Homo sapiens: one gene and its partner. The protein of the gene in region 2 purifies or fractionates together with the protein of the main gene of each other region. This does not show direct contact. Each region holds a gene or a part of one and is shown on either strand. Other genes may lie near its edges.

What was found.
Region 1: the proteins of RPS6KL1 (region 2) and GOLIM4 purify together in Homo sapiens (affinity purification with mass spectrometry; one large-scale study listed by BioGRID and IntAct). This does not show direct contact.

Annotation. Positions count from the first base shown.
Region 1 is NC_000003.12:168,032,370-168,036,924, reverse strand, and holds part of GOLIM4 (Golgi integral membrane protein 4), read left to right. Parts: coding exon 1-89; intron 90-4,072; coding exon 4,073-4,405; intron 4,406-4,555. UniProt on the Homo sapiens protein: Plays a role in endosome to Golgi protein trafficking; mediates protein transport along the late endosome-bypass pathway from the early endosome to the Golgi.
Region 2 is NC_000014.9:74,915,741-74,921,350, reverse strand, and holds part of RPS6KL1 (ribosomal protein S6 kinase-like 1), read left to right. Parts: coding exon 1-74; intron 75-1,381; coding exon 1,382-1,506; intron 1,507-2,745; coding exon 2,746-2,838; intron 2,839-4,830; coding exon of another isoform or gene 4,831-4,878; intron 4,879-5,610.

The sequences.
Region 1 (4,555 bases), on a different chromosome or scaffold from region 2:
CAGCAGAACAGCAAAATGTGACCCAGGTGGCACATTCTCCACAAGGTTACAACACAGCAAGGGAGAAGCCAACCCGAGAGGTGCAGGAGGTAAGGGGCGTGAACTGGTAATCTATGGTTAGGTCACTTTCTCTGTCAAGTTGCCAAGAGGGGACCTGCTTTTAATATTGCCAACTTTTCTGGGAGAGCAGTAGTTCTCAAATTTTAGTATATCAGAATTGCCAGTAGGGCGTGATAAAACACAGATTACTGGGTCCCAGGCCCAGAGTTTCTGATTTAGTTAATTTGGAGTGAGGCCTAAAGATTTGCATTTCTAACTGATTTAGCTGGTCTGAGTAGCAAACTTTGAGAACTGCTGCTAGTATTTTCTTTCTTTTTTTCTCTGAGACAGTGTCATGCTACGTCGTCCAGGCTGGAGTGCAGTGGCACAATCTTAGCTCACTGCAACCTCCGCTTCCCGGGTTCAAGCAATTCTCCCTGCCTCAGCCTCCCGAGTAGCTGGGATTATAGGCGCCCGCCACCACGCCTGGCTAATTTTTGTATTTTCAGTAGAGACAGGGTTTCGCTATGTTGGCCAGGCTGGTCTTGAACTCCTGACCTCAGGTGATCCGCCCGCCTTGGCTTCCCAAAGTGCTGGGATTATAGGCGTGAGCCACCACACCTGGCCGCTGCTAGTATGTCTGAGAAAGGCTTTAATGGCTTTGTCTTTATTCATGTAGGTTTATTTGTCTTCAAGGAGTTGTAGTATCTGAGTTTTTCAAGGTTGGGGATTTTGCGGGGGTTAGGGTGAGAACGTTAAATGATCATGAGGATTTTATGTGACAGTCAACCCACTCAAATATTAAAGTTAATAATATATTTTAACTTGGAGCAGTGCTAGGTCTACACAGAGCATGTCAAAATTTGAATTAAATGACCTGTTTGACACTCCTACGGGTATGAGTGCTAGTCAAATAATACACCTTTTTATATTCTTGTTCTTTATAAAAATTAAGCCTTAAGAATATCTCATAAGTGAGACATCAGAAGTAGTTACCATTACCACTAATTTCTACAAAGGTTGTTTTTTTTTTTTCCAATCATCTGTAATAAAAAAATAGGCAATATGGTTATCTTTCTGACAAAGTGGTTGTTTTAAACTTTTAAGTTCAGGGGTACATGAGCAAGTTTGTTACGTAGGTAAACTGTGTCATGGGAGTTTGTTGTAAAGATTATCTTATCACCCAGCTATTTAGCCTAGTACCCATTAGCTATATTCCTGCTCCTCTCCCTCCACCTTCTGATAGGCCGTACAGTGTGTTGTTCCCCTCTATGTGCTTATGTGTCTCATCATTTAGCTCCCACTTATAAGTGAGAACATGTAGTATTTGACTTTCTGTTCCTGTGTTGGTTTGCTACAGATGATGGCCCCCAGCTCCATCCATGCCCCTGCAAAGGACATGATCTTGTTCTTTTTTTATGACTGCATAGTATTCCATGGTGTTTATGTATCACATTTTTCTTTATCAAAGTCTATAATTGGTGGGCATTTAGGTTGATTCCATGTCTTTGCTATTGTGAATAGTGTTGCAGTGAATGTGTCTTTATAATGGAATGATTTCTATTCCTCTGGGCATATACCCAGTAATGGGATTTTGCTGAGTCAAATGGTATTTATATCTTTAGGTCTTGGAGCAGTCTCCACACTGTCTTTCATGATGGTTGAACTAATCTGCACTCCCACCAACAGTGTATAACCATTCCTTTTTCTTCACAACCTCGCCAGAATCTGTTATTTTTGACTTTTTAATAATAGCTCTTCTGACTGGTGTGAGATAATATCTCATTGTGGTTTTGATTTGCATTTCTCTAATGATCAGTGATGCTGAGTTGTTTTTTTTTTTTTTTTGTATGATTGTTGGCCACATATATGTTTGTGTTAGTCCGTTTTCATGCTGCTCATAAAGACATACCCTAGACTGGTTGATTTAAAAAAGAAAGAAGTTTAATTGGACTTACAATTCCACATGGCTGGGGAAGCCTCACAATCATGGTGGAAGGCCAGGAGGAGCAAGTCCCATCTTCCATGGATGGCAGCAGGCAGAGAGAGAGAGCTTGTGCAGGGTAACTCCTCTTTTTAAAACGATCAGATCTTGTGAAACTTGTTCACTATTGTGAGAGCAGCACGGGAAAGACTTGACCCCATGATTGAGTTACCTCTAACCGGGTTCTTCCCACAACACGTGGGAATTCAAGATGAGATTTTGGTGGGGACACAGCCAAACCATATCAGTGTCTTCTTTTGATGTGTGTGTTCATGTCCTTTGCTCACAAAGTGGTTTTTAACATTAAAGAGAAGACTGAGAAAACTTTCCTCCAAGTTATGGGAATAATTAAGTTGATATGAGTAGACTTCATATATGAGCCTCTTCACTCTGTTCAGGGTATTCCTTCAACAGACAGGTTCAGTATCTTCATGGACTCTTATTCTTTCTCAGGCTCTTATGTTAATAACTAAAGAGAGCATGACCAGATCACTGGCCTGGCAGTTGGTTCTATTTTCTGCCCTTGTCAGACTGCCAGTTTACTGGATTAATCTTCCAGTGACTCAGATCTTCAGTTTTTCCATCTCTGAGGTGGAGATAGGAGTTATCTGCACTAACCTTCCTCACTAGGATATTGTGAAGATAAATGACAAGTGTTTGAAAGTACTTAGAGCTCTTTAGAGAAATATTTTTCTGTAAAGCCAGGGCAGTATTATGTCAAACTTGCCAGATATGTGAGGATGTCGGTGGAATGTGCAACTCCAGTTGTCCTCAAATGTCTGAGAAAGGACTTTTCTCCCCAGTTTATTAATACAGTCCAATTTCTCAGATTTGATAATTATATCTCTGCTAATTTAAGAATAGGATTTCACATTTATTTCAATTTTGGGAGAGCAGTCTAACCAAAGAAGATTTTTTTTTCTGAAGGTTAAAGAGAAAAAAAGAGTGACGTTTGTTTCTGTTGATATACTATATTCTCTTTCTTCCTCACTTTCTAGGTAGTGCAGATCATATAGAGATCGCTGAAACTTATAGGGAGAACTGATTTGAGTCAACTAATTTTAGAGGAGGGTTATTCTGAAAAAGCCATTTCTTCTTTTTCTGCTCAGGGTTTTCAATATTAGCAATAAAAAATGTTTACAAAAGAGTCCTGCTGGTTTACAAATAATTACTACTTTAATACATTAAAAATATTTTATTGTATCTTGTTTAACAGGCACTGTGTTGAACTAACATGGATGTTCATTAGTAATGGCATTCTTTTTTTTTTTTTTTTTTTTTTTTTTTTTTTTTTTGAGACGGAGTCTTGCTCTGTCGCCCAGGCTGGAGTGCAGTGGCGCAATCTCGGCTCACTGCAAGCTCCGCCTCCCGGGTTCACGCCATTCTCCTGCCTCAGCCTCCCGCGTAGCTGGGACTACAGGCGCCCGCCACCACGCCCGGCTAATTTTTTGTGTTTTTTTAGTAGAGACGGGGTTTCACTGTGTTAGCCAGGATGGTCTCGATCTCCTGACCTCGTGATCCACCCGCCTCGACCTCCCAAAGTGCTGGGATTACAGGCGTGAGCCACCGCGCCCGGCCAATGGCATTCTTTTTTAAATTAGTAAACCAAACTAGTAAAAACTAAACCCAACTCCTCAATTTTATTTCATCCTTCTCTTTTCAAATAATTACTGAAAACAAAATTTACATTGAAGAAAATTATGTAAACATTTCATCACTTGAAGTTTGAGGTTTTGTTCCTTTTTATTCTAAGGGAAAATAGGAATTAGAGTACTTCTGAGATATTGGTTACTTGGAGGTTTTATTTTCCAGGTTATTTACTGTATTCTTCACAGATGAAGTTTTGCTTATATTATGTCTATTTTATAAGTGAGATTACACAGTAAGAAACTTAAGTGACTCCATTGCAGCCATAAAGCCAGGACTATATATATTTCTAGACACCTTCTTCTGTTGTAGCCCCATGCCCCATAGACATGGAAATCAAGAAATTACATCATTACTTTTGAAATTGGAAGAGTGTCATTCCCAGTGATGTGCTTGGCCTAGGTGTCTCGAAATAATGATGTGTGGCAGAACCATGAAGCAGTTCCTGGAAGAGCAGAAGACACAAAACTCTATGCTCCCACCCATAAGGAGGCAGAATTTCAGGCTCCCCCAGAGCCAATCCAACAAGAAGTGGAACGCAGAGAACCTGAGGAGCATCAGGTGGAAGAGGAGCACAGAAAGGCCCTGGAGGAGGAAGAAATGGAGCAGGTCGGGCAAGCAGAACATCTTGAGGAGGAACACGATCCATCACCAGAGGAGCAGGATCGGGAGTGGAAAGAGCAGCATGAGCAACGAGAAGCAGCCAACCTCCTGGAAGGGCACGCGCGTGCTGAGGTATGAAGTCACCCGCTTCTGGTATGGTGTACTGGGATGGAAAACCTGGCTTTATTTTTACATATTAAGGTAATATATCACAATCTCTAAAATAGAAATGTGAGTGATTCTACTAAACATTATATGCTCATATTTAAGTTTTCTCTTGTA
Region 2 (5,610 bases):
TGTTAGTGAGGACTATGAGGCGGCCTTCAACCACTATCAGAATGGCGTGGACGTGCTGCTCCGTGGCATACACGGTGAGGACCGGGGCTGGGCAGGGCTGGGGTGGGTGGGGAAGGGCCAGTGCAGGGCTCTTCCTGTCACCCATCTGTCTTGTCCCCTGTCCATTTGTACTGAGTGAGCACGGCACTATGCTGGCCTGCAGGGCCTCCATAAAAGACAATGATAGCTGGCACTTATTAAGCAGTTTCTACATGCCAGGTACTATTCTAAGGGCTTCATGTAGATTCATTCATTTGAGTGTCACAGTAATAGAAATTACTATATATGTTGTTGTATGTTGTTCCAAGCACACAGGAACCATTTTTTACATTCTCATGTTCCAGATGAGGAAGCTGAGGCATGGGGCAGTTCAGTAGCTTGCTCAAGGCTCCACAGCTATCAAATGGCACAATTGGGGTTTCACTTCACAGGCTGTGTACTTGGCCCACTACACCTGACTGTTCCTGGAGCTGGGCTGGGCTCCTGCCCTCTGGGAGTTTGCATTCTAGTGGGGGGAGACTGATGAGTTGATTTGGACCATTATAGTCTCAGGTAGGAAGAGGATTAGTGGGGAAGTGAAGAGAGGAAAGAGGGAAACTGAGGTCAGACTGGGCCGGCCTAGAGCATTTTCTAGATGTTAGATCTCTAATCTGAGCACTGGAGAATGGTAGGTGCGTTATCCAGCTGAAGAACTGGCTAGAGTTCCAGAAAGAACATTCAAGGCCTAGAGGCGAGAGGGGAGGTCCCTCCAGGGCAGCATGAGGAACTTCCATGTCAGGGGAGAGGCTGGTGCTGAGGCCATTTTGAGACGCCTGTGGGCCCTGGTGGCCAGGCCTTGAGGTGGGCACTGGGCCCTTCCTGCCCTCTGGCTGAAGAGACCCTTCAAGCCTGGGCTTCCAGTCTGTCCAGCAAATTCCTTTATCCCCCGATCCTGGTCCCCACCCTAGCCTTCTTTACACTGGGCATCAGAGATGGAAGAAGCAATGCTCTCTGGAATCTTCTATCCCCTCCTCTGAAAAAATGGATGGGGAAATCCCCACCCTGTCCCTTCCCAGGGTGTGACAGCCGCCAGCAAGGCGGTGGGTGCTAATGGTGAAGTGCTGTCTGCTGAGGAGTGACCCTGGTTCCTAACCTCCTCCTGCCAGCTCCCTTCCTCCTCCTTCCTGGCTGGCCCCCCACCCCAGAGGAGGGGCTCATGAAGCAATCTGGGGGCAGAATCTGCCGAACCAGCCTTAGAAACAGGAGCTCACTCCTTGGGAGGGTAGAGGGCAGGCAATGGGAGCTGGAACTCCAGCCCTCCGAGGCCATGGCTGGGGACCCTGGTGACTCTTGTCTCCCACAGTTGACCCCAACAAGGAGCGACGTGAGGCTGTGAAGCTGAAAATTACCAAATACCTGCGGCGGGCAGAGGAGATCTTCAACTGCCACCTGCAGCGGCCGCTGAGCAGTGGAGCCAGCCCCAGCGCGGTGAGGAGACCCCCCCCACCCAAAGGCCTGAGCGGGAGGAGGGCTCTGAGGGGAGACTGCGGAGGCCCCGACACCCACAGGCCCGCCCTGGGCTGCAGGGCAGAGGCCGGCAGTGGAAGTCATTATTTGGGCTGGAGTGTGCCAGGGCGGCCCATCTTCTTTTCCTCCTGGCTTCCTCTCTCTCCCACGCCTCATGGTTCATTCATTTTCAAACAACTCACTGAGTCATCTCCAGTCGTCTGCCTCCCTCACAGAGCACTTGCCATGTGTGCACATAGACATCTGCCAGCCTTGCACACCGTTCAATTTACACGCTTATGTGTGTCCACACTCAGAGCCTCCTGATTCTGTCTCTTGTGAACCGGCATGCAATTTGGAGCAGACCCCGACACCCTTGTGTGCACACACACATATCTGTGTGCATGTATGTGCACACACACAGTCCCCACATGGCTTTCTCTAAACCAGTAAGTGTTCAGTGAGGGTGGAAAATGCACGCACGCTTCTTACCCCACGGTTGCGCGTACTCACGCAGCCCTCCTTGGCTCACTGCATCCTGTACGGCTGCCTTTCCCCAAAGTAGGTGCTTGGTCTTCAAGGCACGTTCCCTGAGACTCACACGTTCCCAGGTTACTTCCCTATCCCCACCTTGGGAGCATCTGCATCTTTTGAGATGGAGTCTCGCTTTGTCACCCAGGCTGGAGTGCAGTGGCGTGATCTTGGCTCACTGCAACCTCCGCCTCCCAGGTTCAAGCGATTCTCCTGCCTCAGCCTCCCAAGTAGCTGGAGTTACAGGCAGGCGCCACCATGCTCGGCTAATTTTTGTATTTTAGTAGAGATAGGGTTTCACCATGTTGGCCAGGCTGATCTCAAACTCCTGACCTCAAGTGATCTGCCCGCCTCGGCCTCCCAAAGTGTTGGGATTACAGGCGTGAGCCACTGCGCCTGGCCTAGATGGGGCTTTTGAGAGGGGGCTTCTGAAGCCCAGAGAACTTCATGGGCCTTGGACGGGCTCAGCAGAGAGGTCGGCCTGACCACCCTGGACCAGTATGGGTGCCTATCGGTAAAGGCCAGCTTTTCCACCCAGCCTGCCACTGTGGGGTGGGGCCTGCCTATACCCCTGCCCTCCCAGCTGTTCTCCTTGCATCCAGAAGCCCCTGCCTGATGCCTGGTGAGAAGGCCATGGCCAAGGAGGGCTCGGCCCTGAGGCTGTGTGTGGCCTGTCTCCCTCCTCTGCAGGGTTTCAGCAGCCTGAGGCTCCGGCCCATTCGCACGCTGAGCTCTGCCGTGGAGCAGCTGAGGGGCTGCAGGGTGGTCGGGGTCATCGAGAAGGTGAGTGAGTGGACACTCGCCTTGCAGGAGGGAGACAGTGTATGCAATTTGGGGTGGCGGTGGGGAGAGAGACATGATATGCTGAAAGCAGGTCTGTAGCAGTGGCCCCCACTCCTCCAGAGGAGGTGGGCAGGGGTCAGTGGGGAGTGCGAGTGCAGTTGTTTCCAGCAGTTCCCACCTCTCCCCCATCCCTAACACGCATGACTTTGGTCCTGGGTCCTGGGGAGGAAAATGCAGGGAACGGGAAGAGGCTGATTGGCCAGCCACAGTGGCTCACACCTGGAATCCCAGCACTTTGGGCCAAGCACCAGGCCAAGGCAAGAGGACTGCTTGAGCCCAGGAGTTAGAGGCCAACCAGGGCAACATAGCAAGACCCCATCTCAAATAAAATAAAATATAAAATAAAATAAAATAAAATATAAAAAGAAGAGGCAGACAGGCCCTTTCCACAGCCCTGCAGCTCAGATCCAGAAAACCTGCTCCTTGGGAGAGTTGGGACAGAAACTGCAGGAGGAGCGAGGAGCTATGCCCAGGGCACCCTGCCAGTCCTCGAGGCCCTGCTCACTCCCACTTCCCGCTTCCCACAGCACCCCCACCACACTCACCCTGAACCCCAGGGCTGCAGCCAAGACGCTCTACCGAGCACAGCTGGGGACTTCCTGCGGCTGGGACGTGCTCAACTCCAGAAACCTGTCCAGAGAGGGCCCGTTCTGGCCCGTCCTTGCCCAGGGCCTTGGCAAGTCTGCCCTTTTTTTCCTCTCCTGACCTAACTGTAACTTTACCCTGTCCCAATGCTATCTCGCATGCTTTGCCTTATTCAGGGCAGACAAGAAGATAGGAGGCGACGTCCCAACCCTTACTCGGGGCACTCATTGTTAGAGTGCTTCTGATTAGAAGGACAGACAATGAGGTCAAATCAGAGTCCAGCCAGTATGAGGTTCCCCTCTTCCCCTGAACCCTGGAATAGTCACCCAAGAAGTTCTTTACCAAGCTGGCTAAATGGAGAGCTTCCTAAAAATACAGATGCCCAAGAATCTGTTATTTAACATACTCACTGGGTGATTTTGGTAGATCTGGGGGCCCACAGAGAAAAGGAGACAGTCCTGTACTTCCCACAGGCAAGAGGATGACATGCTGCCTGAGGGAAGGCCCCGCGCTGGGCACCACCCCGGGTGGCCACGGGCAAGCCCCCTGCTCTCTGAGCTGTGGTTTCTTCCTCTGGAAAGTGAGATGAGAATTCTCCCCCAATGGGGTGATCTGGGAGGTAAAACAAAACAATTTTGGGGAAAGACCTGGCACATGCTGTGACACTGAGTACGTGCTTGATGGCTCTAAATACAAGTGACAGGAGTGAGCTGGGAGGCACGCAGGCTTCTGCTCCCGGGCCTTACTCCAGCTGCTTCTCCTGGGTCCCTGGGGCAGGTCCCAGACTGTCAGCGCAGGCCCTGCCAGCTTCCATCTGCCACGGTCCCCTCCCCACTGCTTGAGTGTCAGTGGCCACGACCCAACCTTGGCTGAGCACAGCCGTTCCCAGGGACTGGCCGGGAGGTGACTGACACCGTGCCTCCCGGTACGATCCCGCTGAACCATAGGTGTTGTGGTGAGAGGGGTTCTGAGCTGAGTATGATAGGAAAACAGCGAGTTGAAGTTATATGGCTTTGTTTCTTAATGATCGGAGTTCTTAGAGTGTTTAGGTGCAGATGTACACTGTGACACAGAATTCCCCAAACTTGTTTAGCCTCAGGAAAGTGGTTTAGGAATCCAGTGTTTCGAGGCCCCTGCAGATGGAAAGCACAAATTAAAGCCAAGCCCAACCATTTTTTTTTTTTCTTGACACAGGGTCTCGCTCTGTAGCTCAGGCTGGAGTGCAGTGGCGTGATCTCGGCTCACTGCAGCCTCGACCTACCAGGCTCAAGCAATCCTCGCACCTCAGCCTCCTGAGTAGCTGGGACCACAGTCTCAAGCCCTGCTATTGTCTTCTATTTTTTGTAGAGAGATCTCGCTGTGTTGCCCAGGCTGGTCTCGAACTCCTTGCCTCAGGTGATCCTCCACCTCCGTTTAGGCCTCCCAAAGCACTTGGGATTACAGGCGTGAGCCAGTGGCCCGCCGCATTCTATTTCAGGACTACCCTTCTTTTTTTTCTTTTTTATCCTGTCTTGGGTACTCAACTTAAGGACTTCACCTCCCTCCTGAGATCCTACTTCCTTTCCCTGTGTCATGCCCAAGCCAGGAGCATCACTTTCCTCAAATTAGGAAAGGTGTTACTGCCCCTGGGCCTGGGTCCCTGCAGCCAGACTTGGATATACTGTCACCCTTGTTCCATTCCACAGCTGTGCCCAGACAGATCTGGGCAAGTGGGCAGTGCCAGCCAGCAGCAACCCTCAGGCCCAGGGAGGAAGCAAAGGGCTTGCTCGGGATGATGCTTGAGTGACCCCTAACGTGTCCGGCTGTTAGGATAACTAAGGGCTGAAGAGATGGTGGCAGGGAGCAGTGAGGTGGGTGGGTCGGGACTTGGCAAGCAGCCAGAATACCCGAGGGCCTGGCCTCAGAGCCTGGGGGCCAGGGAGACATCACCGGGTATTTGCTGAGCCTCGTGCAGGAGCCAGGCTCTGAGACAGGGTGGAGGAAGAAAAAGAAGGTCATCCAAGTCACTTCTTCTTTTATTTGGCTTAAACACAGGGGTGTTTTTTTTGTTGTTTGTTTTTTGGGTTTTTTTAGTTGTTACCAACATTTGAAAATGTGCAGATTCTTATAAAAGTCCAGATTTCCTGC